Regions from separate parts of the Homo sapiens genome. Here region 1 is linked to region 2. The links come from fine-mapping of genetic effects on gene expression. A gene starts in region 2. The other region holds a variant in brackets. All regions are shown on one strand. Distances are between the middles of the regions.

Region 1 (15,865 bases), 63 kb before region 2:
GCAGGAGATGGCCTGTCTTCTTCCTCTACATCAAGAATTCTTAGCCTTTTTTTGGTGGGGGGGTGGTGCCAGGATCCCTTTTGTGGTAAGATGAATTCCGTGAACTGCTTCTTAGAATAATATTTTAAAATATATAAAATAAATTACATGTAAACAATTATAATTTAACCACGTATTAAAATATTAAAACAATATATTTGTGGTGTAATAATATATGTGATACTTTATTAACACATTCAATATCAATATTTAATGGCAGGTCTAATAACTACTACAATTTCAAAGTGGGATTGAGTATAAATGATATTTTATGATATATTTGTAATTGTAATGTTATATGAAAATACATATGATTTCTTTTGGTGGCAAAGCCACAGTACACTACTACCACTATAGATGTTGCCTGCATCCATAATTGAAGAAAATGCCACATTTCAGTTAGAGGTTAGTGGTGTAATTCTTTCTCCCACTCAGGTTCGTGGCTCTCCGGGTTTGTCTGTGGAGCCCAGGTAAGAGCTCCCTGCTCTGGACTTTGTACTCTCTGGCTGTGATGGCTGGAACCACTGCAGCCATCTTGCCAGCAACTGGAGGGTGGACCACTATGGCGTTGGCATACCGGAAAGATGAAAAGAACCTGGGTCCTTGATACCATTGCTGGGCCTCTAAACCAACCAGCCCCAAAGCCTATTGACTTCAGTTATGGAAAATAATAAAATGACTTATTGTTTAAGCCCATTTGACCCAGGATTTCTATGGATTCAGCTAATTTACAGAGAAGGAAGAAGGTTTAACTTTATGTCAGAGTCAGTGTCAAAAGACAGAACAAATGGAGCACCTACACCGAGCTCACAATCCAAGTAGAAAGCCCCTTTCCTGACGGAAAGCAATTTAAACTGCCTCTGCTATATTCACAGTGCAGGAGAATACCGATTGCACAAAGACAACGTATGCTCTGAGCCCTGGAGTCAGTGAGACTTCTGGGAGCACCTGTACCTTACCATCATCTTGCAAGCGCATTGGATGGAGGTGAACCCTTGCACAAGGACAGATTGATGAAAACTCTTTCCTAACCACTGTACTTTGAGCACACCTGGAAGCAGTAACAAGCATTCTGAACATGAAAGCTTACACTCTATTGCCCACAGCATGGGGCAAGAACAATGTGGGATACATCCAAAAGCAGTGCTGCTCAAACTATAGTCCTCAGAAAGGAACATCAAACCTGATGATGCGTCTGAAACAGGCACCAGAAACATCAGGAACAGATTGCTGGGCCCTATCCTCAGAGGTTCTGATTCAGCAGGTTGGCAGCAAGCCCTAAAATGTGCATTTCCAAAAAAACTTAGTGTTATGATGAGGTTTTTGGTCCAAGGATCACACTTTAAGAAGCACTGTCCTAGAGGATCCACAGAGGCCCAGAATGACTCCCTCAGCCACATGGCTAATCATATCACTTAAGGAATAGGATCTGGCTTTACAAATTTATTAGGAGTCTGGTGCAGAGGCTGGTGCCTATAATCCCAGCTACTCAAGAGTTCGAGATGAGCCTGGGCAACATAGAGAGACCCTGCCCCCCAGCTCTTAAAAAACAAAGTTCATTAGGTATTAGTAGGCTGAAAAATTGATCTGGTTATCTAGTTCTCTTTGCCAAGTTTGTTTTGAGCCAGGCACAACTCTGCTTGACAGTGGAGTGCTGGAGCTAGCTGATACCAGCTCGAAAGAGCTAATTGTTAAATTTTCAGGAATTTTGCAAGCTGGTTATTATACACAGCCATCATTACAAATTAATTATATACACTTTTAACAAAATAAATTACATTAAAAACAAAGATACTTAGTACTCCTCACTTCCTAATTATTTTACTATATTTTATTATCATCTCTGCTCTTAAGGTTATTTACATCTACTGTATGTATGTGATGAAAAGATTATATGATGGTGTATCTCCTCTTCCCCACTCTACATTCGATGACTCACCACTGGTAGGTTGGAATCAGCCACGGTGGAATTTACACCATGGAAATTGTTGATTGTATTGATTTCAGATAATGATGGAGAAAATGTTAATACTGCAGATTAAACTTAAAATCATGTTGTGTCTGTAACTGTTACACTGTGACTAGTACCAAAAAATCAAGGCAATATTCTTCCAGCATTCAAATACTACCACCTGATTCAGCAAAGAAGTCACTATGTCATTGACTAACAAATGAAATTCTGATACACGTTTGTTGTTTTTCTTTCATTTGACTCCTTAATGGAAATGAAACTATCAACTGACATTCCTGTTGGAATTATCCTCATTTGTTAATGATGTGAGTTCTTCTTTGGCAAATTGGATAGCATTGATTCATAGTCTGATTTTGTCAAATCATGGTTGAATTGAAACCATAGTTATGGCTGGGGAAACAAGATTTCAACAAAGGTCAACAAAAGCACTGTGAGAATCAGTTGGCTGTGTGAAATTTACAATAAAGCATTGTATAGTTTACTCTTCTTTGTAATTTGGGTGCTTCACATCTGTATTAGTCAGATCAGACGGCCATAACGAAATATTATACCATGGATTGGGTAGCTTAAACAAGAAAAAGTTATTTTCTCACAATTCTGGAGACCAGAAGTCCAAGATCAAGGTTTCAGCCAATTTGGTTTGTGGTGAGGGTTCTCTTCCCAGCTGGTAGATGGGCCGCTTTCTCTTTTGTCCTCAAGTAGCCTTTCCTCAGTGTGCATACGCTTGCACATGGGCAGAGAGACCCAGCTCTCTGGAGTCTCTCCTTATAAGGACACTAATCCTTTCAGATTAGGGCCTCACCCTTATAACCTTATTTAACCTTAATTACTTCCTTAAAGTCCTCATCTCTGAATATAGCCACATCGGGGGATAGGGCTTCAACATAAGAATTGGTTGAGGGGGCAGCAGATACAAACATTCAGTCAATAGCAACATCCTTTCTCTCTGTAAAATATCTAAAAATTTATAATAAACAAATGATACAAAAGTTATAATAAACATTTTTTTCTGGAGAGCCAGTTTTAAAATATTAATGATCACCATCTTTTAGTCATCTTTATTTTCTGGACAGGGTAGGTCCTAGCTGATTATTAGGGGGAGGATTCCATTGCCCAGAGTGAGCAAAACTGGATGAGCAACTCCCTGGCAGAATTCTGTCTTACCAGGCTGATTTTGTTCGAATGTGCTGCCTGTAACAATAGTATCTTTCCCACGCTTGTAATTCGTCCTCCTGCGAGTAGCTTGGTGTACTTCCCTAGGCAGAGAGTTGTCCTGAAAGTGGCCAAACTTGCTGACCCAGGGCCACACCAACCCTCCCAATTGCTCACAGTCTGTCCCTCTTTCCTTACAAGTTTACCAGGGCACGAAAAGCAGGCAACTTCCTACTGAATCTCTCCACCAGAACAGGACTGGGGAAGGGACCTCCCTTTCTCATCAGAGGTCCAAGGCAGCAGTACAGCATGCTAATACCCAGAGGCAGGCAGTGCTACAGTTGGGCAGTCTGGTCAGTGGTGACAGTGCAGGCCACACAAGGCCTTGAGTTGGAGGAGCAGAGGGTCTTTCCAGAGCAGTGGAGATGATGTAGGACTGGACTTATTCACAAACTCGATGACTCTCAGATATGCTGGAGAGGAGAGATCAAGTCCTGCAGTTGCTCAGGTAGGGCTATCCAGCAGCAACTTTCTGATCTAACTATTTATGAGATCTCATTTGCACCTCATTTGTCAAGCTTCACCTTCATTCTGCAGATGAGAAAGCTCATTTTAGGAGAGGAGATGACTCAGCCAAAGAGGTCACATGGTGAATCAGGGTCCAGTGGTGTGGATGTGTCTGTTTCATTCAGCCTCTGCTCTGGGCAAGCTTTCTCCTTTAAATGAGCAGAGGAAGCATCAGCTCCGTGCATAGAAACATGCAGAGCCAGCTGGCATGTCTGCGAATCTGCATCTGTGCTTCTCCCAGACCTTTCAAAGGTTCTGGGGATGAGAGTGCAGGGTGAAGGCACTCCAGAAGGACTATGCTGGTAACTTGCCCAATGGCCCACTGTCATCGCCTTGACTCATCACCCACCTGTTTCATTTGTCTCTGTCTGGGAGCTTAACTAGAGTCCAAGTTCCTATAGGCAGGGAACATGATATGCATGGGCTCCTGAGCCAGAACTGTGTTCAAATATTGATGCTGCCACTTACTAGCTATGCCACTGGGCAAGTCCATTAAATGGAAAAGGAAAGATGCAAAAATTCGTTGAGGGCCAGGATGTGGTAGCTCACACCTGTAATCACAGTGCTTTGCGAGGCCAAGGATTGGCCTCCCAGATTGAATTCCAGATTGCTGAGGCCAGGAGTTCAAGACAAGTCCTGCAATATAGCAAGACCTGTCTCTACAAAGAATAAACAAAAAATTAGCTGTGCATGGTGGCACGTGCCTGTAATCTCAGCTGCTTGGGAGGCTGAGGCAGGAGGATCCCTTGAGCCCAAGAGTTTGAGGTTACAGTGAGCCATGACTGCACCACTGCACTCCAGCCTGGGTGACAGAGCAAGACCCTGTCTCTAAAAAAAAATTTTGTAACATAATGAATGCCTTTTATAAGTTAGGATTTGTTTTACTTGTAAATGACTGAAACCCAACTCAAACAGGATTAAGCAAAAAAAAAAAAAAAACAGTTTATCGTTTCAGCAATCAAATGATCCTGGAATAGACCTTATAGGCTTCTGGTGAGGCTTGAGACCTTGTAGACTTCCAGGGGGCTGAGCAATGTCCTCAGGACCCATTTTTGCTCTCTCCATCTCTAGCCTCCACTTTTTCGGTGTTGGCTCCATTGTGGGCTTTCTACTCAGGGTAGAAAGGTGGCTGCCTAATCTCCAGTTGTGTATACATGTGCTGCATATACCAACTGTCAAGCTCCCATCCACTGGTAAGGAAAACCAGTCTCTTCCCCCAAAACACTCACACAAATCCTAGGCTTCACTTTGGACCAATCTAGGTCATGAGTTGCACCCCTGAACCAACGGCTGTGGCTAGGGGAATCCAGAGCACTGGTCAGCCACGCTTGAGTCACTTGCTCACCCCCTGGAGTGAAAATGAAGCCTGGTCCAGAGCTCACAAACTACAAATGCGGTATGGAGAGGTTTCACAAAGAAAAAGAAAGAAACTATTACTGAAATAAGGTACAATGGATTCTGGGTAGCCAAAAAGACAACAAATGTCTGCCACACCTACTATCTACCATGCTCCTGGTACTTTTTTTTTTCATTAAACTCTTGCAATGGTATAACTTAACCTTTCAGAATCACAGTTTCCCCTTTTTAAAATGAAGATAATGATACCTAATAAGACTAGCTACTACTTATCTGGTACTTTCTAGGCACTGGGCTAAATGCTTTATGTATTCCAACTCATGTAATTATTTATATCATAAGATTATTGTTGGAAATAAATTAAAATAGATGACATAAAATGTCCTAGGCATAATACCTGATACATAATAGGTGATAAATGTTTAAATGCATTTTATTTTATCAGTCACTCAAGCACAGTATTAAGCACCTAACAGATGCTTATTTTAAAAGATGAACAAATTAATCTATGTATGAAATTATTTCTGCATTTACTTATTTATACTCTACCTAGTTGCACAAAGGATTTGATATACAGGATATGCATTCGATAATATAGCACAATATAAACAGGTAAATAAAATCAGGACCAAGGAATGTGTGAATTAGAATAGAATAATAAGATAAGGGGAAAAATAAAATGCATTAATGGATGTCATGGATTTAGTTTTTGAATTTGAGGCTTCGAGTTTCCTGGCAACCAAAGAGAAAAGGGAAAACCCGTTGGCTGCAATACCACAGTTCAAGAATGCAAAATAAAATCATTCCTCCAGGAAGATAATTTAATGCATTGGCTTTTGAGATAAAGGAATTCTTGTTGGGCAGTTGGGGTAGTGGGGACAGGGACAGATACTGAAAAACTGTATTTGAGGTAAAAACAGTAGTTTTTTTTAGCACAGGAAGTAATTGGCAAAAAAGCACCTAATCTTTTGTGGGGCAAATGCCTGATGTACTTTTGATAACAGAATGAGGTGCCACTTTAGGCCTCTGATACAACAATCAAATCCCTTGAGGTGAAATGCCTCCCACAGCCTTGGGGGGGATTTCCCTCCAACAGACGCCATATTCAGAGGGGAGGCAGGAAGCTAGTCTCCAGAAAGAAGCATACCCTGCAGACCTGACTTCCATTCTCAAGAAGAGACCCAGGAGCTGTTCTCCCTGAGGCCTAAGGAGGAGAAACCAAGGGGGTTTTCACCTGGCAGCTCCCCTAGGCAGGATAACTCTTCTCAGCTCCAAGGTCCCTGCCTGCAGCCGAGAAAGAGTTAATTGCAGTGACCCAAATCTGCAGTCCCATTTTCAGCATGCTGAAAATTACTTTTTAATCCTGGCTTTTAGGGCTTGCCTGGGGAGCCATCTGCTGCACCCTCCCCCACCTCGGGCACACAGGATTACTCCCACCTGCCCGCCTAACTTGCTTTTGTGGGGCCTAATTCTGCTCCTGCCCTTCCAGATCATAGTAATTTGGAGGATGACAGTTTCATTTGTGGCGTAGGAAGAGAGCAAAGATTTTAAAACAACAAAAAGCAAGGTCTTCCAGCCCAGATTAAATAGAAAACAATTTGAAAGGTCAGAATCCACAGAGGTACAGGTCTGGGATAATCAGACCCCCAGCCTCAGCCATGCCATGCCATCTGTTGCAGGCATCTGGGGCTGGGCAATGTAGCACTTGGTTTTATTCTGGGTTCCAATACTTAGGGGTCATAGGGTTCCAAAAGTGGGTGATGCACCCATGACTCAGCTTGCTCCATCCAAGGAAATTGAGCAGAAGTCCCTAAACTCCCACTGGAACAAGACCTAGAGATTATGCCCTAGTCTCTCAGTCCTTCAGCACCTCTCTAGACCAGTTTAGGGAAGCCCCCTACTGTGTGCCTTGGTCTGCACCCTCAAGGACCTAACTGTGCAATGGAGGAGAGATGAGTCATAAAGAGTACCCAGTGGGATATATGCTACGATGGGGCCTTTGACCTGAGCCTTGAAGAATAAGCATTCACCAGATAGACAAGGTGAGACAGGACCTTCTAGAGAAAGGGAATTGCATGGACAGAAGCCAGAGATGGGATGGTGCTTCTGAGGAGGGTACAGGAAAAAAGGGTCTCACCTACATGGCTGGTGGAAGTTATCAGTTCCATGGGTACAACCTCTGAGAAGCCAATCTAGCAATAATCTTTGAAATTACAAACATACATATCCTTTCACCCAGAAATTCCGCTTCCAAGAATTCAACTAGCAGAT[A/T]TACTCCCACGTATGCAAAATGGCATGCTTACAAGTTATTCAATGCAGCATTGTTTGCAATAGCAAAAGGTTGAAAATGACCTACACGTCCACCAACAGGCTGGTCAAATGAATTCTAGGACATTCATACAAAGAATACTCTGCAACGGGAAAAAGAATAAAGTAGTTCTTTATGTTCTGGTAGGAAATCATCTCTAAGAGTGTTGTTCGTGATAAAAAGCAAGGGAAGTAACCAAATGCAATGTGTGGACCTTACTTGAATTTTGATTCAAACAAAACAGCATTTGTTGAGAGAGAAAAAAAATCAAGGAAATCTGAATGCTGACTAGGTAGCTTATGGTATTAAAGAATTATTGTTTTCTTTTACATGTGTAGAGGTTGTGTTTTTTCTCAGGTAATTTTCTTTTAGAAATATATGCTGAAGAATTAATAGATGAAATTATATGATGCCTGGGATTTGATTTAAAATAATCAGGGGGAGAGGGAGAGGAAGTGAAGATACAAAAAGATTGGCCGAGTGTGGATCATTGTTGAAGTGGGTTGATGGCTATATGGGGGGTTCACACTGTTTTTTCTACTTTTGTGTATGTGTGAAATTTTCCTGCAATAAAAGCTTCTTAGAAAGCAAGGTGCAGACTGGTGTATTTAATATGCTGCCACCAAAACTAAAAAGAGAAGACTGGCCGGGCACGTTGCCTCATGCCTGTAATCCAGCACTTTGGGAGGCTGAGGTGGGCGGATCACGAGGTCAGGAGTTCGAGACCAGCCTAGCCAATATGGTGAAACTCTGTCTCTACTAAAAATACAAACATTAGTCGGTCGTGGTGGTGTGCGCCTGTAGTCCCAGCTACCCAGGAGGCTGAGGCAGAAGAACCACTTGAACCTGGGAGGCAGAGTTTGCAATGAGCCAAGATCACGCCACTGCACCCCAGGCTGGGCAACAGAGTGAGACTCTGTCTCAAAAAAAAAAAAAAAAAAAGAAGAGCAGACCCTCACCAAACAAGTGTATATATATATATGTGTGTGTGTGTGTATATATATATATATATGTATATATATGTGTGTGTATATATATATGTGTGTATATATATGTGTATGTATATATGTATATATATGTGTATATATGTATATATATATGTATATATAGAGAGAGAGTGTGTGTGTGTATATATAATGTATATAATATATATATACATTACGTATATATGGTATATGTATGTATATAGATATATTGTGCATGCATGTGTGTGTGTATGTGTGCGTGTGTGTATGTTGAATGAATGAATGTCCTCCTGGGACCTATCAGGCTATCTTTAGGAATACAGTTAGTTTAAAAAATAAGTATTACATAATGTGAAAAATGTGGGAATACAAAGGAGGAAATGAATCATCTTTAAGGGGGAGAGGGGCTGGTTGAGGAATGTTGCTGGAGAGGAGATGACGTCTGAGCCGCATCCTGAAGGGTGTCAAGGAGCTTGGCAGGTGAGGAGTGTGAGTTAGGAGTCAAGCATTTTGTACTGAGGAAAAAACAAGAGCAAAGGTCAGAAAATTTAAAGAATAGAGTATGTTTAACTAAAGACACTGCTTTTGTATTATTATCAAATCATACTATTGTCTTATATGGAGAACTTTAGCCACGCCTCTTCAATTCAATTCAAAGGGATTTATACATCCACACATACAAAAACAGTAGGAACAATATACTTGCCTATTTGCTTATATACTTATAACAAATCTCTGGAAGAAAACATGCAGCTGCTAAAACTGTTTGCCTCCAGGAGGGTAGACTAGTGGCTGGGGGACAAGAGTAGGAAGGAGATTTTTTACTGTTTTATTTTTTGTATCTTTTGAATTTGGACCCAAGTAAATATATTATCTTAAACAAACAAACAAAAAAGGCCAGGTGCAATTGCTCATGCCTGTAATCCCAACACTTTGAGAGGCTGAGGCAGGCGGATCACTTGAGGCCAGGAGTTTGAGACCAGCCTGGCCAACATGGCAAAACCCCATCTCTACTAAAAATACAAAAATTAGCTGGGCATAGCAGCATGCACCTGTAATCCCAGGTACTTGGGAAACTGAGGCAGGAGAATCACTTGAACCAGGAGGTGGAGGTTGCAGTGAGCAGAGATCACATCACTGCACTCCTGCCTGGGCAACAGAGTGAGACTGTCTCAGAAGAAGAGGAAGGAGAAGGAGAAGGAGAAGGAGAAGAAGAGGAAGAGGAAGAAGAAGAAGAAGAAGAAGGAGAAGGAGAAGGAGAAGGAGAAGGAGAAGGAGGAGAAGGAGAAGGAGAAGAAGGAGGAGGAGGAGGAGGAGGAGGAGGAGGGGAGGAAGAGGAAGAGGAAGAGGAGGAGGAAATTAAACAGAGTGAGACTATCTCAATAGAATAAGAAGAGAAAGAAGAAGAAGAACAAATTAAGCAGAGTGAGACTGTCTCAATAGAACAAGAGGAAGAAGAAGAAGAGGAAGAAGAAGAAGAAGGAGGAGACAGAAGGAGGAGGAGGAGGAAACTAAAATTAAACAGAGCAAGACTATCTCAATAGAAGAGGAAGAAGAAGAAGAAGAAGCAGCTAAAATTAAAAAAAAAATAAGATTTGGAATTACAGAGAACAAGCCTGAGTAGCTTGGGTAAGTTATTTACCTTCTATGTCTATGAATTTCTTTTCCTATCCATGGAATGGGGACAATGACATTAGTATCACCTCATAGGAGTGCTGTGGTATTAAGTGAAATAATGTACTAGATAAATGTATTAAATAATGTATTTAAATACTAATGTACTACATTAAATAACATAATAAATTATTCACAGAAGGCACCTTTATAAACACCAGCTGACATTAATGCAAAGCCAGGACTCAATCCATGACTCTGATCCCACGTTCCAAGTTCTTCCCGCTCAAAAGGTAGTCCACCTGACTAGCCCTCAGGCCAAAGATAGCAAAAGGATCAGTGGGATCTCTCTGAAGCTTAGCAGCAATGGCCTTATGGGTTTTTATTGTCCATGGTCAGCTCTGCCAAGAAGCACACACAAACATTTCTCATCAGCTCATGGATATTTTCACTGGCCTTGTCTGCTCCATGAAACAACCTTTGGAGGTCAAATTGATGAAAGGTGTGGTCTTGCCTGTAAGACCAGGATCGAGTCTTTCCCTCTGAGACAAGTGGTTCTTCCCAGAGCTGTTACCAGGCATCTAGGTCCACTAGCAGAGAACCCTGGCCTAGAAGTCAGAAGGTTTGTGGCCCAGGCATCGGAGTCAAGAGATCTTAGACACTACTGGCAAGGCATATAGCCTAAGGTGTATACCTTAACCTCACTGGAGCTCAGTTTCCTCATCTGTAAAATGGGAATAAAAATGCCTGCCCCAGCTATCTCTTAGGGCTGATATGAATAATTAATGAAAGAGATATGCGAAATTAAATTTTCTAATTTAGACTCTAGATTATTGGGGTCTTCTTCAATCCTTTCCACCCAGGCAGAGTCTTTGGTTCTACCAATATGTAAGTTTTAAAATGTGATCAAAGGAAAGCCAGAGCTATCACCTTGAGGTTCCTGAATCTGCCCTCCTCTCCTCTATCAAAGAGATTATAGCACACACAGGCGGGTAGGGAGGATCCTAAGCACCATAAATACATGTAGGCAATATCCATGTCTTTCAAATGTTTGTCCTTGGTGAGAGCTGCAGCTGTCTTTTAATATGGCTAAATGAAGTAGGGGAAAATCAGAAAAATGCAAATGAGATCCTTATTTTAGGCAAATCAATCTCAGCAATGCTCATATCTGATCAAGCTTATCTTTAGGACGATCATTAGGATAATGGATTAATGTGAAAGTTTATTTTTACCCTGTCTGCTCTCACTCCTTGAAGACCCTTCAGACCTCATCTTGATTCTGCCAGACACCCCAGGAGGACGGGAACTCCTTACCAGTCAGTTTAGTCCCCAGCATTCATGTTGGGGCGGACTCTGGCAATCATAGGGTTCAGCTCACCACAAGGTCACCCAGCACCACACTGCCCCCACCTTTCATCATGTGACCTGAGATAGCTGCAGCTACCCTTGGACTCCAGGGGTTTTATTTAGGAAGTCCCAGAAAAAGATAAGAAAGATATGTGGGAATTTCTTTACAAGGAGGCCTTTGAGAGACCTGAAGTGTGATAAAGAGATTAAGAGAATAAGCCTTGAAGTCAGGCAGCCCTGGTTGAATTCTAGCTCTCTTACTTACTTGCTATGTGACCCTAACTTCCATTAGCCTTGGTTTCCTCATCTGCAGAATGGAGATCTTATTTCCATCTACTTAACTGGGGTGTTGTGAGATCTAAATGAGAATTGTGTCCATGCAGCACCTAGTGAAGTATCTGACATGGGGTAAAAATGAGAGCTACTGAGCACTTAATAAAGCACTGTCCCAAGTTCTTTCTATGTATTAATTTAATACCAGCAATAATCTTATAATATGGGTGTTATAGCCCCCTTCTTTAAAAAAAAAAAAAAAAAAGGAGGAGGAAAAGGAAGGCCTGAGAAATTGAGTGACATAGCCAAGGGCCAAGATTTGAACCCATGGCTCTAGAGCCCACCGCATCACTCCTACCCTACAGCTCTTGCCAACTTGCTGGCAAAAATGGAGAAGGGTCTTTTGCTCGCACGGAAGCTGGACTTGTAGTGAACCCCTCTAGAATTCCATGTAATTAGAAACAGAGGGCACCAGTTCAGGAAGAAAGAAGCAGGTAAAGGAGAAGGCACAGGGGCCCAGAGCTTTCACTAGGCAGGAAAGAGAGACAGGCAGCAGGATCCTGTCCACAAGCAGCCATCCCAGAGCCATTTTCTAGAAGGGACACCCCCTACGCAGAGCCCCTGACACTGCTGTCCTGAGCCTGAAGCCCGTCTAAGGCTTCTCTTCCCTGCATATTGAGAAGGGGGCTGGAGAAACATCCTGGGGCTCTGCAGAGATGAAAGTCACGGCACACCCTCAAAGCCTTTCTCATTTTAAGCATTAGATCACTTTGTATCAGAGCCACTTGGAGATGAGAAAGTGGGAGTCCGCCTTGGGGCAATGGTATCTGAGTCTGAGTCCAAAAATGTTTGCCTATAGATGTAAAGAAAAGCCCAGATTATTAGAAACAACATAGCAATTAAGACAAAAGATTAGGAAATTCAGGCCTGTTTCAAGTTCCAGCTCTAACACTTACTAGGTCCATAGCTTTGAGTGATCATCCTAATCTGGTGCCTCAGTTTTATCTTCTGTAAAATGGGGCTAATAATACCTACCTCATAGGATTTAGGGAATTAAATAAGAAATATATGTACAGAGCTGAGATAGGGTCTAGCATAGAGTAAGTGGTTAATGAGTAGTAAGTACTTATTATTATATGTGGTGGTTTTAAATTCCTAAAAGACAAAAAAAACATACATTCAGTTGACCATGTGTATGTGGAATGGGCAATGTGCGCATACTTACATATAAACATGCATTTATACGTATTTCCCCAGGCACATCCCTGAAAAACCAGTATATACTCAGACATTCCCTTGAATCAAAATCGAGTCTATTCCACTTCCTCCTCAGTCCAGTGAGGTGTTCAAGACATCAATTATTATCCCCATTTTAGACATCAGGACCCCAAGGGACTTAGCAGCATCTAAGTAGCCTGCTCAAAGATTCAAGGCTAATCCAATGTCCTCCGTACTCTTTTCTTAGCCTTCCTGACAATTTGTGTTCACTGCCCCCTCTAATTCTCTGTCCAAGCTAAAAGACCGTGAATTCCACACACACACCTCCCCCCCGCACCCCCCCCCCCCCCCGGCTGCCGGCAAATGCAGCCTGATTATCGGAAGGAGATGCCTGAGAAGAGTGAAAGGAAAAAAGAAAGAAGATAGAGGGAGATGGGGTAAAGGGACATGTGGCCTCGTTCTTCACTGTCCCAAATTCCCTTTTCAAGGGCATAAGCCTGCACCCACCTCTTCCAACCGCCCCCTCCATCCTTGTCTCTGCCCCTGTGTCCCTGTCTTGTCCTCCCAAGGGCTACAGCAATATTTCAAATGTTCCTCCCACAGCTGGGTGCCTGCGCTGGTTTCTGGGCTCCTGGCATCCTGAAGCCCCACCCTGATGCTGGCTCCACACGTGCCTGTGCACATTCAGGGCTGTGAAGGGTCAGTGGGCCACGTGAAATTCCAGGAAGGAACAAGGCTTCAGGGGTGCTGTCCTTGGCTGGTTCCTACAGCACTTCCTTCCTTGTACCCCGCAGAGCCTTTGGCATGTAGAGTCACGTGTTCATCTAAGTACCACTGATGGTTTTGATTTTCTACCTGAAGAGTGCACAGAAGCTGGCCTTGGACAATAAAAGCAAAGGCAAAGGTGCCCGGAAGGAAGGATCAGTGTGAGGAGGGTATGGAATGGTGCATGCAAAGTACCAGCACAGCGCCTGGCACAGTGTAGACTCCTCACACAGAGGGCTCTCCTCCCTGCCCCCAAGGAGATCTCAGAGGCCCCCCTCCTGCCAAAGCGGCATTTCAACTCCTCGCATACACTTGGGCTTCAGTCCATTACACAAGGAAATTTGGCTTCATTTATATAAAGGGGCTAATTACCACATGAGACATAATTACAAGACAGGAAATGGATTTATAGATGCCGTCAGTGGGAGGGGAAGTTGCAGCGGCTGCTTGGACTGCTCCGTGCTCCTAAGGGGCTAAAGCTGTCCCCAGCGGACAGGATTCTTGCCCTGGGAGTTCTTGCTTTGCTGAGAAATGTGCTCTTAGAGAGGTCGGCAGTACTACAGATTTCTGGAAATCAAATCTAGTTCTGTCTCTGAATTTGTTCCACAATTGGCAATGTATTCCCACAGGTTCTCTTCACACAATAAAAATCATACTTAAGAATGTAGTTAGTCTTAAACATTAAAAGAGAAAGATAAGTCTTATGATAGATTCCAAAACTAGCCCAAAGGAGAAATGCTGGGTAGAAACTGTACAGCACTAGTATCTGCTCTTCTTTGAGGTTAGATGAACCCTGAGAAAGAGCTATATTTGCCAGACACGGTGGTGTGCACCTGTAGTCTCAGCTACTTAGGGGGCTGATCGCTTGAGCTGAGGCATTCAAGGCCAGCCTGGGCAGCACCCTTTCTAAAAGGGGGGAAAAAGAGCTATATGCCTGCTAATTGACCTAATAAATAGTCCCTTATGATTTCATTTTTCACCTTAAAACCATATATCTTAATTTAGACACACATACACACACAGAAACAGACAATAGGCAGAAGTGAAAAGGCCCTTCCTCATTGATAACCAAAGATAAGCAAATTAGTACTAGCTAATATGTGGGGAGCACACTCTGTGCCAAGCACTGAGCTTTGCTGTCTTATTTGTTCATCTTCACAACAGTCCCATGAGGAGGGTGCAGTCATAATCCTCAATTGATAGCTAAGGAACTGAGACTTAGGAAGGTCAACCAAGGTGGCCAAGTCCATACTGTAAATGCCAGAACAAGCGTTTGCACACCACTTGTCTGAACACAGAGCCTGGATTCTGAAGAACAATGAGAACATTTCTCAAATTAACAATAATATATTCTCAAGAATCTTAAAAATAAAAATTTTTCTATTTAAAAAAAATTTTTAAGAAAAGAATCTTAAGACTATCACTCCCGGAGACCGAGCATTTGACTCCTGATCACCTATCTTTATGAAATAATCTAAAAAAATGGAAAAAGTTTAATGCACAAAGATCTTCTGAGCAGAGTACCTTGATTATAATGGGGAGAAATTGGAAACTAAATGCTTAGCAATGAGGGAGTGGTTACATAAACTATGGTACATCCATAAATGGAGTATTATTCAATAATTAAACTGATGTCGCTAAAGAGTTTATAACAACGTGGGCAAAAGTTTATGTTACGTGGAATAAAAATAGCAGGATTCAAATATGTATGCGTTACGATCTCTACAAAAAAAAAATACGCAAAGAAGGACATCTAGAAGGAAATGTACCAAAATGTCAGTTTGTCTTTTTTTAAGCATAATTATGACTGTAAGAAACCATTTTCTGTCTTTTGTGACAGCTCTTTATTGTTTGCACTCTTAACAGTGTTCCCCAGGCCCTGCCCACGCCTGTGAGTACTTTATGGTGAGGTCTTGCTTATCTTTCCTCACAGATGTGCATTTCAAAGAACCACTATCATCATAATTTAACATTCCTGTAAGTGTTCACACAATGGGCTTCCCTTAAGCAGAAGATATCTGTGCCAAAGTTGCGTCCTTTGTCCTGGCTGATGACATCAGGTACAGAGTAAGGGACCCTTTTAAGACCAAGGAAAGGAATGCCTAAGGGTCAGGGCTACAGGTACTATGAGTCTCCTCCATAGCTGAATGGTCACTGGTTCATTTATTCATGCACACCACAAACTTGTGCTGCGTGCCTACCATGTGTCAGGCAGCACCAGTTTGGGTTCTGAAAATGTAGAAATAAAAAAGCCAGGCCAAGCATGGTGACTCATGCCTATAATCCCAG
Region 2 (15,865 bases):
TGGGCCAGCCCCAGCTTTGTCACTCACGAGATGTGTGAGATTTGATAAGGTACCTTGACTTCCCGAGTCTGTTTCTTCATTTGCAAAATGGGACATATTGACGATTGATCACATGAGATAACAGGTGTTGAGCACCCAGCACTGTTGAATGTGAGTTGCTCCTTTTGTAGTCCTTTAATATTCCTGGGCCTGGCCCAAGTTCTGCAAAGTCTTTGCAGACAACTCATGGGGTGAGCCAGTTCTTGGAAGAAAGGGAAGATCACCTCCCACTTCCTGCACATTATATTCCTGCTTATGCATTCTGATGTCCTGCTTGCTTTTTTAGGCTCTAAGTGCTATCCTGCTGACTCACTTCCGACTTCTCGTTCTTCATGCTCAGCTCCTGAAAATGGAACAAAATGGAAAAGGCCGGAAATTGTACTGTCTGGTGATGTGTTTAAGGGGCCAGCCACTCCACGTGGATGGAATGCTGGGGACATGAACTGAGTGGTGCCCAAGATGATTTCTCCACTGGACACTTGGGACACTTTGCCTTCGATTGTAATACCTGTACTAATAATAACCATCCCACTTACTGCTAGCAAGCCCCAGGCTATGTGCTTTCCATGGATTGTCTCTTTGAATTATCACAACTGCATCTGTCAGGGAACCTCTCTATTTTACAGACAAGGAAATTTTTCACACTAAGATAGGTTAAGGAACTTGCCCAAGGTCACATAGCTGGTAAGGGACAGATTAAGGATTCAAACCCATGATCTAGATTTGGGCTGTCTAATATAGTAGCTACTAGCCACATGTGGCTAGTGAATTTTGTTTTCCTTTTTTTTTTTTTTTTTTTTTAGATAAGGTCTCACTCTGCTGCTCAGGCTAAAGTGCAGTGGCATGATCATGGCTCACTGCAGCCTCAACCTCCCTGGGTTCAGGTGATCCTTCCACTTCAGCCTCTTGAGTTGCAGGGACTACAGGCACATGCCACCATGCCTGGCTAATTTTTTTTTTTTTTTTTTGATAGAGATGAGGTTTCACTATGTTGCCCAGGCTGGTCTTGAACTTTGGGCTCAAGCGATCCTCCCACCTTGGCCTCCCAAATTGCTGGGATTACAGGTGTGAGCCATCACACCTGGCCTCTTTTAACTTTTTAGTGTGACTACTAGAACACAAAATTTCATATGTGGCTCTCACATTTCTCTAGGACAGCACTGATCTAAATCATGAACATTATTTTTTTTTATTATACTTTAAGTTTTAGGGTACATGTACACAATGTGCAGGTTAGTTACATATGTATACATGTGCCATGTTGGTGTGCTGCACCCAGTAACTCATCATTTAACATTAGGTATATCTCCAAATGCTATCCCTCCCCCCTCTCCCCACCCCACAACAGGCCCCTGTGTGTGATGTTCCCCTTCCTGCGTCCATGTGTTCTCATTGTTCAATTCCCACCTATGAGTGAGAACATGAGGTGTTTGGTTTTTTGTCCTTGTGATAGTTTGCTGAGAATGATGGTTTCCAGCTTCATCCATGTCCCTACAAAGGACATGAACTCATCATTTTTTACGGCTGCATAGTATTCCATGGTGTATATGTGCCACATTTTCTTAATCCAGTCTATCACTGTTGGACATCTGGGTTGGTTCCAAGTCTTTGCTATTGTGAATAGTGCCACAATAAACATATGTGTGCATGTGTCTTTATAGCAGCATGATTTATAATCCTTTGGGTATATACCGAGTAATAGGATTGCTGGGTCAAATGGTATTTCGAGTTCTAGATCCCTGAGGAATCGCCACACTGACTTCCACAATGGTTGAACTAGTTTACAGTCCCATCAACAGTGTAAAAGTGTTCCTATTTCCCCACAGCCTCTCCAGAACCTGTTGTTTCCTGACTTTTTAATGATCGCCATTCTAACTGGTGTGAGATGGTATCTCACTGTGGTTTTGATTTGCATTTCTCTGATGGCCAGTGATGATAAGCATTTTTTCATGTGTCTTTTGGCTACATAAATGTCTTCTTTTGAGAAGTGTCTGTTCATATCCTTTGCCCACTTTTTGATGGGGTTGTCTGTTTTTTTTCTTGTAAATTTGTTGGAGTTCATTGTAGAGTCTGGATATTAGCCTTTTGTCAGATGAGTAGATTGCAAAAATTTTCTCCCACTCTGTAGGTTACCTGTTCACGCTGATGGTAGTTTCTTTTGCTGTACAGAAGCTCTTTAGTTTATTTAGATCCCATTTGTCAATTTTGGCTTTTGTTGCCATTGCTTTTGGTGTTTTAGACATGAAGTCCAAAACCTCCTTAAGCTAATAGGCAACTTCAGCAAAGTCTCAGGATACAAAATCAGTGTGCAAAAATCACAAGCATTCTTATACACCAATAACAGACAAACAGAGAGCAAAATCATGAGTGAACTCCCATTCACAATTGCTTCAAAGAGAATAAAATACCTAGGAATCCAACTTACAAGCGACGTGAAGGACCTCTTCAAGGAGAACTACAAACCACTGCTCTATGAAATAAAAGAGGATACAAACAAATGGAAGAACATTCCATGCTCATGGGTAGGAAGAATCAATATCATGAAAATGGCCATACTGCCCAAGGTAATTTATAGATTCAATGCCACCCCCAACAAGCTACCAATGACTTTCTTCACAGAATTGGAAAAAACTATAAAGTTCATATGGAACCAAAAAAGAGCCTGCATTGCCAAGTCAATCCTAAGCCAAAAGAACAAAGCTGGAGGCATCACGCTACCTGACTTCAAACTATATTACAAGGCTACAGTAACCAAAACAGCATGGTATTGGTACCAAAACAGAGATATAGACCAGTGGAACAGAACAGAGCCCTCAGAAGTAATGCCGCATATCTACAACCATCTGATCTTTGACAAACCTGACAAAAACAAGCAATGGGGAAAGGATTCCCTATTTAATAAATGGTGCTGGGAAAACTGGCTAGCTATATGTAGAAAGCTGAAACTGGATCCTTCCTTACAGCTTATACAAAAATTAATTCAAGATGGATTAAAGACTTAAACATTAGACCTAAAACCATAAAAACCCTAGAAGAAAACCTAGGCAATACCATTCAGGACATAGGCATGGGCAAGGACTTCATGTCTAAAACCATGAACATTATTAAATGATCATCAGACCAATGATTTCCCAATGTTTTTGATAAATTTTTGAGCACAACTCCTCAATTGTGTATTCTTATTTATTCATAAATGTTATACATTTGTGCTACTCTGTAATATTATGTACATTATAAAACATTGACAAAATGGATATTTTTAAAAGATGAAATTTAAAAAATGAAATAGAAATTGTACTAATTTCTTCCAGGAGCCTAGTGGGTCACTTTGTGCACCCCCCACCATGGTGTGCACACACCATTTTGGAAATTCTTGCACCAGAGAGACTTAGAGCTCCTGGGGGCAGAGACTTTAATACAGATGATCCCTGACTTAGGATGGTTTGACTTATGATTTTTCTAGTTTACCATGATTTGAAAGTGATGCCCATTCAGTAGAAAGTGTACTTTGAGTCCCCTTTCAATCACTCTGCTTTTTTTTTTTTTTTTTTTTTTTGAGACAGAGTCTGGCTCAGTCGCCCAGGCTGAAGTGCAGTGACGTGATCTCGGCTCACTGCAAGCTCCGCGTCCTGGGTTCACGCCATTCTCCTGCCTCAGCCTCCCAGGCCGGCTAATGTTTTGAATTTTTAGTAGAGACGAGGTTTCACCACATTAGCCAGGATGGTCTCTATCTCCTGACCTCGTGATCTGCCTGCCTCAGCCTCCCAAAGTACTGGGATTACAGGTGTGAGCCACTGCACCCGGCCTCAACCATTCAGCCTTTCATTTTCACTACAGTATTCAATAAATTATGAGATATTCAACATTTTATTATAAAATAGACTGTGCTAGATGATCTTGCAGAACTGTAGGCTAATGTCAGTGTTCTGAGCACGTTAAGGTAGGTTAGGCTACGATGTTCAGTAGGTTAGGGTATTAAATGCATTTTCAACATACGATGGGCTTATCGGGACACAAACTCGGCCAGGCGCGGTAGCTCACGCCTGTAATCCCAGTACTTTGGGAGGTCGAGGCGGGCGGATCACAAGGTCAGGAAATCGAGACCATCCCGGCTAACATGGTGAAACCCCATCTCTACTAAAAATACAAAAAATTAGCTGGGCGTGGTGGCGGGCGCCTGTAGTCCCAGCTACTCAGGAGGCTGAGGCAGGAGAATGGCATGAACCTGGGAGGCGAAGCTTGCAGTGAGCCGAGATTGCGCCACTGCACTCCAGCCTGAGCGACAGAGCGAGACTCCGTCTCAAAAAGAAAAAAAGAAGGGACACAAACTCATCATGAGTCCAGAAGCATCTGTACATCTATCTCCTCTCCCCCACAGTTGAAGTTAGCACCATGCCTAGATATAATTGGTGCTTAATACATGTTTGTGGAAGGAATAAATAACTCTTAATGTACAATTGTTTTCTCGTGGATTAGATTAATTTATTTATTTCACATGTATCAAGCACTTTCTATGTATTATTATAGTACTATACTAAGCGCTGAAAAAGAAAGTTTACAAAGACTAAGCTCCTTTACTCTAGGCCTGTGCTTCTTAAGCTCTAGCGTTTGTAAGAATGACCTGGAGAGCTTGTTAAACAGATTCCTCCTCTCCTCCTCCAATTCTTATTCAGTAGGTCTGAGGTGAAACCAGATAATTTGCTGAACATCTAAGAAGCTTTTAGGAAACTACACTTTGGAGGAGAGTGCTGTGCATTGGAAAATTGGAAACATCTCAAATATTACATGAGGGTGAGTGTTGAAGAGAATTTATATTGCATTTTCACTATTTGCCAAGCACGTTTAAATACATCACCTCATTTAACCCTCATATAGACCTCATGAGTCATGTATTATTTCAGTTGAGGCAACTGAGATTGAGAAAGGTTAGTTAAGTTGCCTAAACTATAGAGTAAGTAAATGGCAGAGCTTGGGTTTGTACCCACTTCTGCACTCAGTAATTCAGGCAAATCTGTAGCAAGTGTCTTCTTTTTTTTCAGGCACTGTCCTAAGGAACTGGGCATACAACATTGAGTGAGACAGACAAGCTCTCTGTCCCCGGTCAAACTCAACAAGCACTTAAAATATCGATATGAGGGAGGCAGTGTCATGGAGATATACAACAGAAACGTATACTCTAGAACAGAGTTAGAACTTTCCAGGAAAAAAAGTAAAATTTACACGAAGACCTGAGGGATGAATTAGAGCAGTGAAGGATGAGCGGGAAATGTTTTGGGCTGAAGATATACATGAAGGCTTGAAAGCATTCAAGGAGCTGCAGGAAGTTCAGAATGTCTGAAGTGTGGAGTGGAAGGGAGAGATAAGACCCTTGAGGTAGGTAGGCAGGAACCAGATCATGCCAGGCTATTTAGGGGTACAGCCAGCCTTTTTTTTTTTTTGACAGGATCTCACTGTCACCCAGGCTGGAGTGCACTGGTGGGATCTCAGCTCACTACAGCATCTACCTCCCTGGCTCAAGCTATCCTCCCACCTCAGCCTCTTCAGTAGCTGGGTCTAGAGACATGTGTACCACTAATTTTTGTATTTTTTGTAGACACGGGGTTTTGCCACATTGCCCAGACTGATCTTCTGAACTCAAGGGATCCACGTACCTTGGCCTCACCAAGTGCTGGGATTACAGGTGTGAGCCACTGCCCCTGGTCTCAGATTTGTATTTTTAAAAATTTACTATGCCCCCAGAGGGGGATGGATCAAAGGAGAGCTAGCTTGCAGGCAGGGAAATGGTTAAAGATGTTAGTGGTGTAAATTTGGGTAAATGCTGTGTGACTGGGAAGTAGCAGAAGTGAGGGGGATTTAAAATTGTTTAAGACTTGATGATTCAGCCTGGGCAACATGGCAAAACCCCATCTCTACAAAAAAATACAAAAATTAGCCAGGTGTGGTGGCATGTGCCTGTAGTCCCACCTACTTGGGAGGCTGAGGTGGGAGGATCATCTGAGCCCAAGAGGTGGAGGCTGCAGTGGGCTGTAATCATGCCACTGCACTCCAGCCTGGGCAACAGAGACCATGTCTCAAAAAAAAAAAAAAAAAAAAGAAGACTTGATGACTGATAGATTGGAAGGGACAATGTGGACAGGCAAAGGAGGGATCGAAGATGACTTCCAAGTTTTTGAGTAAACTATACAGTTTCAGTAGGGATAAGGTTCTGTAAGCTTATTATTTCACATTTTAAAGGAAGGGTAAATTCAGATAAATGAAGTGATGGAAAGATGCTATTTTAGTAAGATTTCAATGACAGAAACTTACTTGATAGAAAATATGGGAGAGGCTGGAGGCGGTGGCTCACGCCTGTAATCTCAGCACTTTGGGAGGCCAAGGTGGGAGGTGGGAGGATCTCTTGAGCCTAGGAATTTGAGACCAACCTGGGCAACATATTAAGACCCTGTTTCTAAAAAATTAAAGAATCAGCCGGGCATGGTGATGCACATCTGTAATCCCAGCTACTCGGGAAGCTGAGGCGGGAAGATTGCTTGAGCCGGGAGTTGGAGGTTGCAGTGAGCTAGGACTGTGCCACTGCAGTCTAGCCTGGGTGACAGAATGTGACCCTGTTAAGAAAGAAAGATAGAGGAAAATTATTATTTTTGTGGTCAAGTTTACTTTTTTTGTTTTAATTTGCACCAACAGCTTTATCATTTGTCGACAGTGGAGTTCTGAATGCCAGAGATTCCTCCTCTTTTTGCCAAGATCAGGATTAACTATGGAGAGGACCGGCCGTAGACTACGAACTGTCAGTCTACTGAGTTTCTGTCAGTCTTTTGAGTTTCCTTTGTCTTCTTGTTGAGTGACCTTGGACCTTGAGTTTCTGAAGCTCAACATTCCCTTTTTCTTCCCCTATTTTTTACCCCACACTTTACATCTTAAGTGGGATATTGGACATCTCGGATCAGTGGACCAGTGATGATTTGGACTCCGCCTTCTTCGTCTAGGTCCCGCCCACTTTAAGACCCCACCCCTTCCCTAAGCCCCGCCCCTTGAAGAGGTTGTCTCGATATGACAGCAAATTCTCCACAATCCTGTCCTATAGGAGATCTAAAGGGTGGGACTTACATCAACCTTTTTTTTCCATTTGTTTTTTCAAGTGTCTATTTGGCCCAGGTTCCATCCCACTTCATTTTCAACCCAAGGATTGGTTACTCTGTTCTTTGTCTCTGGCTCATGATTGGTTCTTTCGTTCCGCCCCTCTCTTCCAGCTTTTGCAGGCGGGATTACCACGCAGCTTCCTGCTCCTGCCAAAAAAAAAAAAATAAATAATAAAAGAAGAAGAAGAAAAGAGGAGAGAGGCGAAAGAAAAATGTCACAAAGATCTTTGCTTTTTAATTGGCTTTAAGCCTTGTCGGTCAAGCCAAACTCTGCCTTTGATTGGTCTTTCTATCTGCCCATCCCGGATCGGGGGCGGGATTTCCCCGGAAGACCCACACCTTGTTGCCACTGGCCGAACAGTGCGCCTGTCTGAAGCTCCTGGCCCAGGATTGGAGGCGGTGGCGGACAGGTGGGCGTGGATTGGCTAGGGCAGCCGGTCCGTGCAAGGCGGGGGCGGGGCCTCGGCGGCTGGTTGCGCGTGTCCGACGCTGGCTCCGCTCTATCCGGCTTTGCTAGGGGAGGTGAGTCCGGCCGCGGCGGAACCGGCGGCTGAGGAGGCGGCGGCTGAGGAGAAGGCGGCCGCGGCGGCTGAGGAGAAAGCGGCCGCGGGGACGGAAGCCGGGTGGGGGGGAGGGGGGGAGACGGAGCAGCCTTGAGCCCTGCGGGGCCGTTGCGCGGGGGACCCACCCGCTCTCCCCCCCAACCCTCCTCAGCAGAAGCAGCCGGCGGCGGGGGCAGGAGTCAGCCCGCTTCCGACCGTACCCCGCCCGCCTCCCGGGGCTCCTGTTCTTTGGCCCCGGGACCCTAACCTTCTCCCGGGGCGGTTCCCTCCGTCTGGGCGTCCGAGCGCTGCCCACATCTTTCATTCCTCCCTGCACCTCCTTCCCTTCACTTTTGCCCCGGCTCTCTTTCTCCTCTCTGTCCTGCTGTCGCCTCCTCTCCTCACTCCAGCCTCCTTCCCTGGCTTATTCTGCCCAGGAAAGTTTGGAACCCCCGCCCCCCCTCCCCAATCAGGTCAACCTGACTAGGAGTAGGGGGAGATGTAGGAAGGCCTGAGAGTTCGGGGGGGGGGAAGCTGGAAGCTGGTTTCCCAGAAAATTTCCCCCCATCTTCTCCATTTAGGGTGGTGGGAATTTTTTTTAATCCTGTTTTTGAGGAGGTGGTAGGTGTTTAGAAAAGGATGTGGGAATGGAAGGGGTAGATGAGTCAACCCTCTTTCAAGATTCCAAGGGTGGTGTGTTACCTGATCCTTTTCGTGTGTGGAGTTCAGGGGGTCGGGAGGTTTGGCCTTTATTCCCACATTCAAAGTTGGAACCTCCCCCAAATTAAGAATGGAGTTTTAGTACCCACTTGTGGCAGGAATCCTGGGGGGAAGGGGTCCTTTTTTCCTTTTTCTTTTCTTTTTTCCCTTTTTTTTCCTTTTGGCAACCCACACCCTTCCACACACGCTCACCCCAAAATTAAACACCAAGATCCTCTAACTTGTTTGGATTGACTGATGAAGACATAAAGCTCTATGTTTTTTGAGGTGGAGTGAGTGGTTTTTCTTCATTTTTAAATGGCCAAATGACAGCTTGACCCAGTTTGCTTTCCAATCAAAGGGCATTTATTTTGAATGTCTCTTTGTGGCGCAAGAGCCAACGCAAAAATGATGGCGGCTTACAATGGCGGTACATCTGCAGCAGCAGCAGGTCACCACCACCACCATCACCACCACCTTCCACACCTCCCTCCTCCTCACCTGCACCACCACCACCACCCTCAACACCATCTTCATCCGGGGTCGGCTGCCGCTGTACACCCTGTACAGCAGCACACCTCTTCGGCAGCTGCGGCAGCCGCAGCAGCGGCTGCAGCTGCAGCCATGTTAAACCCTGGGCAACAACAGCCATATTTCCCATCACCGGCACCGGGGCAGGCTCCTGGACCAGCTGCAGCAGCCCCAGCTCAGGTACAGGCTGCCGCAGCTGCTACAGTTAAGGCGCACCATCATCAGCACTCGCATCATCCACAGCAGCAGCTGGATATTGAGCCGGATAGACCTATTGGATATGGAGCCTTTGGTGTTGTCTGGTGAGTATCCAAAGAAAAACACAACCTCTCATGGTTTCTTCTGTTGGTTGTCATTGGATGAGTCCATCTCTAATGGTTGTCTCCATGTTGACCAAGGTGCAGCAAGCTTCTCAACCCAACTGTAGGAAGCCACCCTCACTTATGTGGTAAAGAGGCCTAATGCATTGGCTGTCTAGGCTCATGGCAAGTTTTGGTGGAGCGCCTTCTCATGAGCAACACACATAAGTGTGCTGTCTACCAAACTTTTCTATTAGAACCTAAGCAAGCCACTGAACACAGGATCAGTAGATGAATGTATGCAATACTAATTCCTACGAAGACCTTGGTCATCTCGTGTGTTTGATTCAGTGGCCCTGTGGCATTAAGTGTTAGCACCTGATCCAGACTGAATTCCTTTATAATACTCTTGTCATTAGGATATACTTTGCATAACTACTTTCCTGTCCTTTCTGTCTTTTCACTTATTTTGTGATCTTGATCTCCAGAAGAAAGATAGGATTCATAGTTGAACCAGTTAAGATCATTGCTTGAGTGGTTTATTTTAAACCATAAAGCTACAGTTGAGAAGTATGTAGCTGTAGCCTTTTGATAAGAATGCATTAAATATAGCATCACACATGAGTACCACAAATGAGGTTAGTAGACTAGCTATGCAGTGGCCCACATTCAGTGTAATGTTTTAGTGTCATTTAGTGCCTCTTAAGTTGCTGTTATCTGTTGGTCAGTTGCTGTAGTAGGAAATAATACTTTTTTAACAAATGACCCTACCTTTGCTAGTGCTAGGATATTTGTAAAAGCCTAAGGGCTTCTTAAATATAACATTTTGGTCTATTTGGTCTAACCTTAGAAAGATTAGTAGTTTATAATAAAATATGTTTGTTCCTATCAAAACTAGAATGAACTGGGTTTTCTCCCAAGGACTAATGATTCCACTTTGGATAGATGAATTGATATTTTCAGTGCATTCAAAAATTGTTACTCCCGAGAAAAGCGCCCATTACCACAGGAAAATGAACTCTTTGGAACTAGCCCGGTAAATATCTCCTTTCGTCATTGTTTTTGAGGCTAAAATTGATGGGTGCATTGTTTATGCATTTTAACTGGCCATCTTATTTATATTTCAGATTTGATAATCTAGGCTGCTAAGTGATCTCATCCATTTTTTAAAAAAACTAGTAGAGTCCAGTGTTTTCTCAGCTAGTCCCCAAGGAAGTTTCTGCTGCAGCGTGGTCCTTTCTTCAAGGTGTGTGGGATTCAAGGTGGAAAAGAGTATAGCTGGTAATGGTGCCTTGGTCATTCTGCTCAGGGACCTGCCTGTTCCTGCCTTCCTCTCTTCCCTTCCACAGACTATCTCAGAGATTTAACTGTGAACTTATCCTTGCCTAACTCTTGAGGATTTCCAAGCTTTGGTTGGGGGATGGAACAGACAGGAAAACGGTTGTTCCTTGGTTTAAATTTTGTCATTGATTTACTAATAACTTTTAGCACTTGTTTGGATCTTCTTAGATCTGGATGCTTACTTTCTTTTTTAGTGCCTTACATACAATGCTAAAAACTAGGGATACTGAAAGGGAAATGGGTTGCAGCATTCTTGAATATATTCAAAAGGCATTTTTCACTTACATTTCTATCAAAAAGTGATGTGACTTGTAGCAGTTTTTATTTTATTTATTTATTTTTTTAAGGAAGGGGGCAATAAAGAACTGGAGTGCTGAAACATCTCACACAGCAAACGTTCTGCTAGTGGGTACTATGAATCTTTGATATCTGAAAGCCCACATATATTTGGTTTGAAGCCATTCTAGAGGTTTTTAATTGATTGACTGCTCTACCACCTATGGAGTTTGTCTCATGTACTTAAAGTACACCTCTGTGCACCATCTTACTTCAGGTTTGTCTTGTGTCACTGACTACATTCGTAAGCCCCTTGAGGGTAAGGATTGTCTACTGTAGTAATCCTTTTCTCCTCAGCGCCTAGCACAGTGCTTTGGCATCTTTGCTGCTTGGTTAATTGATCTAGTCAGGTCCTTCTTTGTTTTGGCTTAAACAACAGAAAATTATTTCTCACAGTTCTGGAGGCTAGAAATCCAATATCAAGGTACAGGTTTGGTTTCTTTTGAGGCCCCTCTGCTTGGCTTGTGGATGGCCGTCCTCCTGTGTTATCACGTGATTCGGGTCTTTGTTTTTTTAACCAAGTTTTTCTAGTTAACTGCATTGAGTGTTTTCATCAGCTGTTACAGGTGAAATACAATTTGGTATGAAAAAGGAAAGAGTTCCAGGTGTATGTTTTAGTATGCAAATGCTTTTCTATTTTTATATTTACATGTCAATGACTTGCTGTCTGAATTCCTTATTATATTTGAAATTTAACTGTTGTATGACCTAAGTAAGACTGTTTAGAGATTTGAAAACCAAACTACCGGGAATTGCACTAATATTCTGAAACCCAAGGTAAAGATATTAGTGAGGTTTTTTACTTTTTAACTGAAACAGAATGTATCTTTTTAATTTAGGAAGCACCTTATGAATTGGAAACAACTTTTTTCTAAAATGATTATAATGGAACATAAAAATGTTCTCCCAGTGATGCATCCTTTGATTGAAACCGCCATGTAACTAACTACCGGGGTATTATAAGATTCACTTAATTCAAACATATATTCATTTAATGCACTTTGCAAGTATTCTTCTGGAATAGCATATGACAAGAAACTGTATTTGCCCACATTTCCTTGGGGACATACACCCAGGGGTACTAACTGATGGCTAAAAAAGTGGCATGCAATTTTGAGAGAGATTGTTGTTTCTCCATGTAGACAAGGAGAGATATTTGTAGAAGTGATGCAGCATTTTACCAGATTTATCACTGAACAATTTAGTCTAGCTGACTTGATTTATCTTTCTGTTGAATTTAACTAGTGGAATAACTTATCAGTATTGGACAGTTGTGTAAAAGTAGTGAATTACTCATTAGCTTGCTGGTAAGGATGGTGCTGTGACAGTTCAATTAAGGTTTCATTAACAACTGTCTGCTGTATTTTATCTCAAAGTAAGAGTTCCAGTTTACCTGGTAATGTGATTGTGGGATAACCTGAGATAACATTTGTTGCCACTGATAGAATGTTGTTTATGGGTTATCAAGATATCATATACAATTTGACCTTCTTTTTGAGACATTACAGCCTCCAAACACCCACATGGACATTTTCATAATGCAAAAACAAAACACAAAGCAACCCACAAATAGTAACTTCAGTCATTTGGTGAGTAATATAAATCTACCTTTTTGTCTGCAGTTCACATTTGCCAGAGGAAAATGCTGTGGTTAAAGATGTAACAACTTTGGGACAAAGAGTTTCAGGGGCTCATAATTTTGAGAGATGGAGGAAGTTGACCGCATGAGAGTGGTTTGAGGATCGCTGTGCCTAGACCGTTTTTGACATTGGCAACTTAACATATCAGAGATGGAATTAATGGCACATATTGCCACCTTGGTAAAAGTGAGTCTGGGAAAAGACTTTTTTATAAAATTAGCATTTTGGTTTGTGACTTGCCTGATTAATTAAAAGATCAAAAATCCTGGGATTCACTTGCTCTGTTGCCTTTGTGTACTCCAAGTAATGTTGGAGGTCTTTGAATTTTATTATTCTAATAACTTCAGCAGGTTACTTTTATCTGTCTTTCAAAACTGTAGTGATAGTTACTAGCTCTGTGATCTCGATAAATTATTTGACTTCTCTGTTCCTCATCTATAAAATGGGGATAATAATAGTACTTATCTCAGGATTGATGTGAAGATTAAGTGAGGTAATTCTTGTAAACCAATGATTACACTGTCTAGCACACAGTAAGCATCAATAAATGTTAGTTGTTTTTATTGTAGTTATTGTTGGTAGAAAAATCAAGCTGTTGTGTTAATGTGCATGGAAGTGTCTTCATAGATTGTCAGATTTATCAGGTGAAATCAGCATGCAGACTATTTTTGGAGGCATGACTCTAAATAACGTAGCGTGTCCCCTCAGTTGTACTGTATGTCAGGGAGATTTGAAAATGGTTGAATTTAAAGCCAAGGGGAAAATACTCTGTGCTGTCCTGTCAACTAATTAAAAACAAATAAAAATAATACACATTTGTATGGACTTTGTAGGTGTTTTAGTCAGATCATCTGCACTGTTTTAGAAAGTATTATGGATTTATATACTGGGAAATTAATTTTTTCTTTTCAGAATGTAACAAATGAAAGACATCCTTATTGTCGAAGTAGAGATTCACTTTGCTTATGTTTGGATGAAAAAGTGTGAATTGCTAAAGATCCCAGTGAGGTGGGAGAAATATAGTGATTTAACAAAAAAATTACTCAGTATAAGCCCTTGTGCATGGTAGAGATTGTCTAGCTTGCTCATCTTGTGAACATGAGAGGCATCTTTTTTTCTTATGTTTTGTCTGGTCCTCTTACTCCACATAACAAACTAATTTGGAAAAATGCAGAATGCTTTTGGGATATGTTTGGGGAAAATCCTGGAGTAAGTTGCATCAGAAAGAGTAGTATACTAAAGGGTATTTTGTTATTAACTGTGTTTTACAGGTTGAGAATCTGTAGTACTGAGAAGTTTCTCCACTATCAGCCGAGATTAACAGCCACAGCTGGATTCTTTGGGGGCTCTGCTTTGTGAAAAGAGCTTTGAAGAAGCAGAGCCTGCACCATAAAAAGGAAACGGTTGCTCTTCTAGACATAACAAAGCATCCGTATGAAACTAGAAATGTGGAAATCTGTATTGTTAATTTTAACTACAAACGAACTTACTTTTGGAAATTACAGGTTCATGATCATAAAGTAGATAAAGAGTAGAGAATAAAAGTAACAATCTGATGATTCTGCACCCACTTCTTGGTGGTTGAAACTCCATAGCCTATAACGTTGCAAGTCATTTTGTACTTAGACTCCTGAAAAGATTATCCAAATTATGTTCAAAAAACCACAGCACAAAAAATAAACTTGTTTTATTCTTGGGGAGAAATTTCATGTTATACTGTCCAATATTAATTTAGAAAAAAAGACAGTTTTTTTTTTTAAGGCATTTCAGAAACATTGCCCTTTCAAGCAAGTTAGAACAATATCCCTCAACATTAAATACCATCTTTTTAGCCATCAGTACCACTGGGCATGTGTCATAAAAGAGAAATGGGGGCAGATATAGCTCCCTTTCATATGCTATACCAGAACAAAAATTTGTAAAATGCATAAGTGCATTAACTGAATATGTTTGAATTTAAATTCTGGGTTTTTACCTTCAAAGCACAGGCAGCTGTAGATACAAAAAGTCCTCTAATGGAGTACTGGAATGTTTCATTGTCTTCACAACTTGGAGTGTCAGAGTTTTCTCTGCCTTCTATATTGTAAAACTGAGTGACTATTCTTGGTCGTTTTTATTAGATTTATTGATGTCCAAGCAATACAAGAATTAACTGTTCATATACTGTATGTTTCCTTAACATGCTTATTTGGTTTCTTTGATGGAGATTGTCAAGGCCAAAGAAACTTTTTCATTTGTCATCCAACCAATAAATGGACAGAAGCTGTTAGAAGCTCTTTAATTATGCGTCTCTTTGGGTTTTAATTCTGAGTCCCTGTGCCTCTGTGCTACTCCAGTGAATTATTTGTTGATTGGGCCATCTAATACAGGTCAACAATAACTAAAATAGCTTGTCAGTGTGATCCTGATATTGCTTGGAAGTAACAGAGTGTCTGAGGCAACAGTTGTAACACTGTCAGTGAGCACATAACAAGTCATGATAGACATAGTCAGTAGTTGTAAGGTACCTAGTGCAGAAACAGAAAAAACTGGTACTCTGGCATTATGGAAAGATGACTTCTAAGTGAACTCTACTGAGATTGAACTTTAACTCTTAGTTGTAATGGTGTGAGTAGAGGGAGTATATATGGGGATGTCTGCCACTCATAATGATTGGTGCTCTTTACCTAAACCCAGTTTTGAAATAATTTGGCTAATTGAGTCATATCTACTATGAGGCAGTGAAAGTTTTTAACACCTTTGGAACTCACTAGTCTATATATTTTTATTGTCACTTCGCTGTGGACCAGCACTTTTGCAAGCACCAAATGGGGATATTTAGTCTTATAAATAATTTTGCGAACCTCTATTAAGCTGCTGCTGCTGTTGTCTGTATTGTGCTTAGTACTGAGGTATAGGGATGTTTAAGTCACCATATTGCTTTGGAGGAGTTGACAGTCAAGTAAACAATATGAACAATGAAACATGCCTACTCTCAGGGTGTCCTCAGCCTTGGTGGAGAGGTGAAACTAAATTTGAAACCATTAAATAAAAACTTAAGAATATATTATTTTCAGGCCAGGCATGGTGTCTCACGCCTGTAATCCCAGCACTTTGGGAGGCCGAGGAGCGGTTCACCTGAGGTCAGGAGTTCAAGACCCTCCTGACCAACATGGTGAAATCCCGTCTCTACTAAAAATGCAAAATTAGCTAGGTGTGGTGGCACATGCCTATAATCCCAGCTACTTGGGAGGCTGAGGCAGGATAATCACTTGAACGCAGGAGGCAGAGGTTGCAGTGAGCCAAGATCGTGCCGTTTC

Which allele goes with the higher level. Positions count from the first base shown, and alleles are read on the strand shown. Sizes are in standard deviations (SD) of each study's normalised expression.
As copies of T replace A in region 1, the expression in tibial nerve of the gene that starts at base 8,598 in region 2 goes up (small effect, 0.25 SD a copy in GTEx).

Evidence for each region. PIP is the estimated chance that this variant, and not a neighbour inherited with it, causes the effect. A credible set is the group of variants that fine-mapping cannot tell apart.
Region 1: its variant is the best candidate, but not a certain one, in a credible set for the expression of NLK in tibial nerve (GTEx, PIP 0.59).

What each region holds. Positions count from the first base shown.
Region 1 is chr17:27,971,484-27,987,348 of GRCh38, forward strand. The region is part of intron 2 of LINC01992 (long intergenic non-protein coding RNA 1992); the gene reads right to left. Among named protein-coding and RNA genes, the nearest start is that of LINC01992, 12 kb to the right of the region's middle. RefSeq lists enhancers at 3,620-3,914, 5,142-5,271 and a cis regulatory region at 15,287-15,843. The variant A/T (reference allele first, on the strand shown) is at 7,358.
Region 2 is chr17:28,034,080-28,049,944 of GRCh38, forward strand. It overlaps NLK (nemo like kinase), which reads left to right and starts at 8,598. Exons shown (of 11, transcript NM_016231.5): 1 at 8,598-9,252. The coding sequence starts at 8,795. LOC105371709 (a long non-coding RNA gene) reads right to left here and starts at 7,641. Exons shown (of 3, transcript XR_934637.4): 1 at 7,518-7,641; 2 at 7,147-7,325; 3 at 61-382. LOC102724517 (a long non-coding RNA gene) reads left to right here and starts at 9,259. Exons shown (of 2, transcript XR_001752820.2): 1 at 9,259-12,752; 2 at 13,838-14,847. RefSeq lists enhancers at 1-735, 7,044-7,338 and silencers at 7,506-7,735, 7,756-7,985.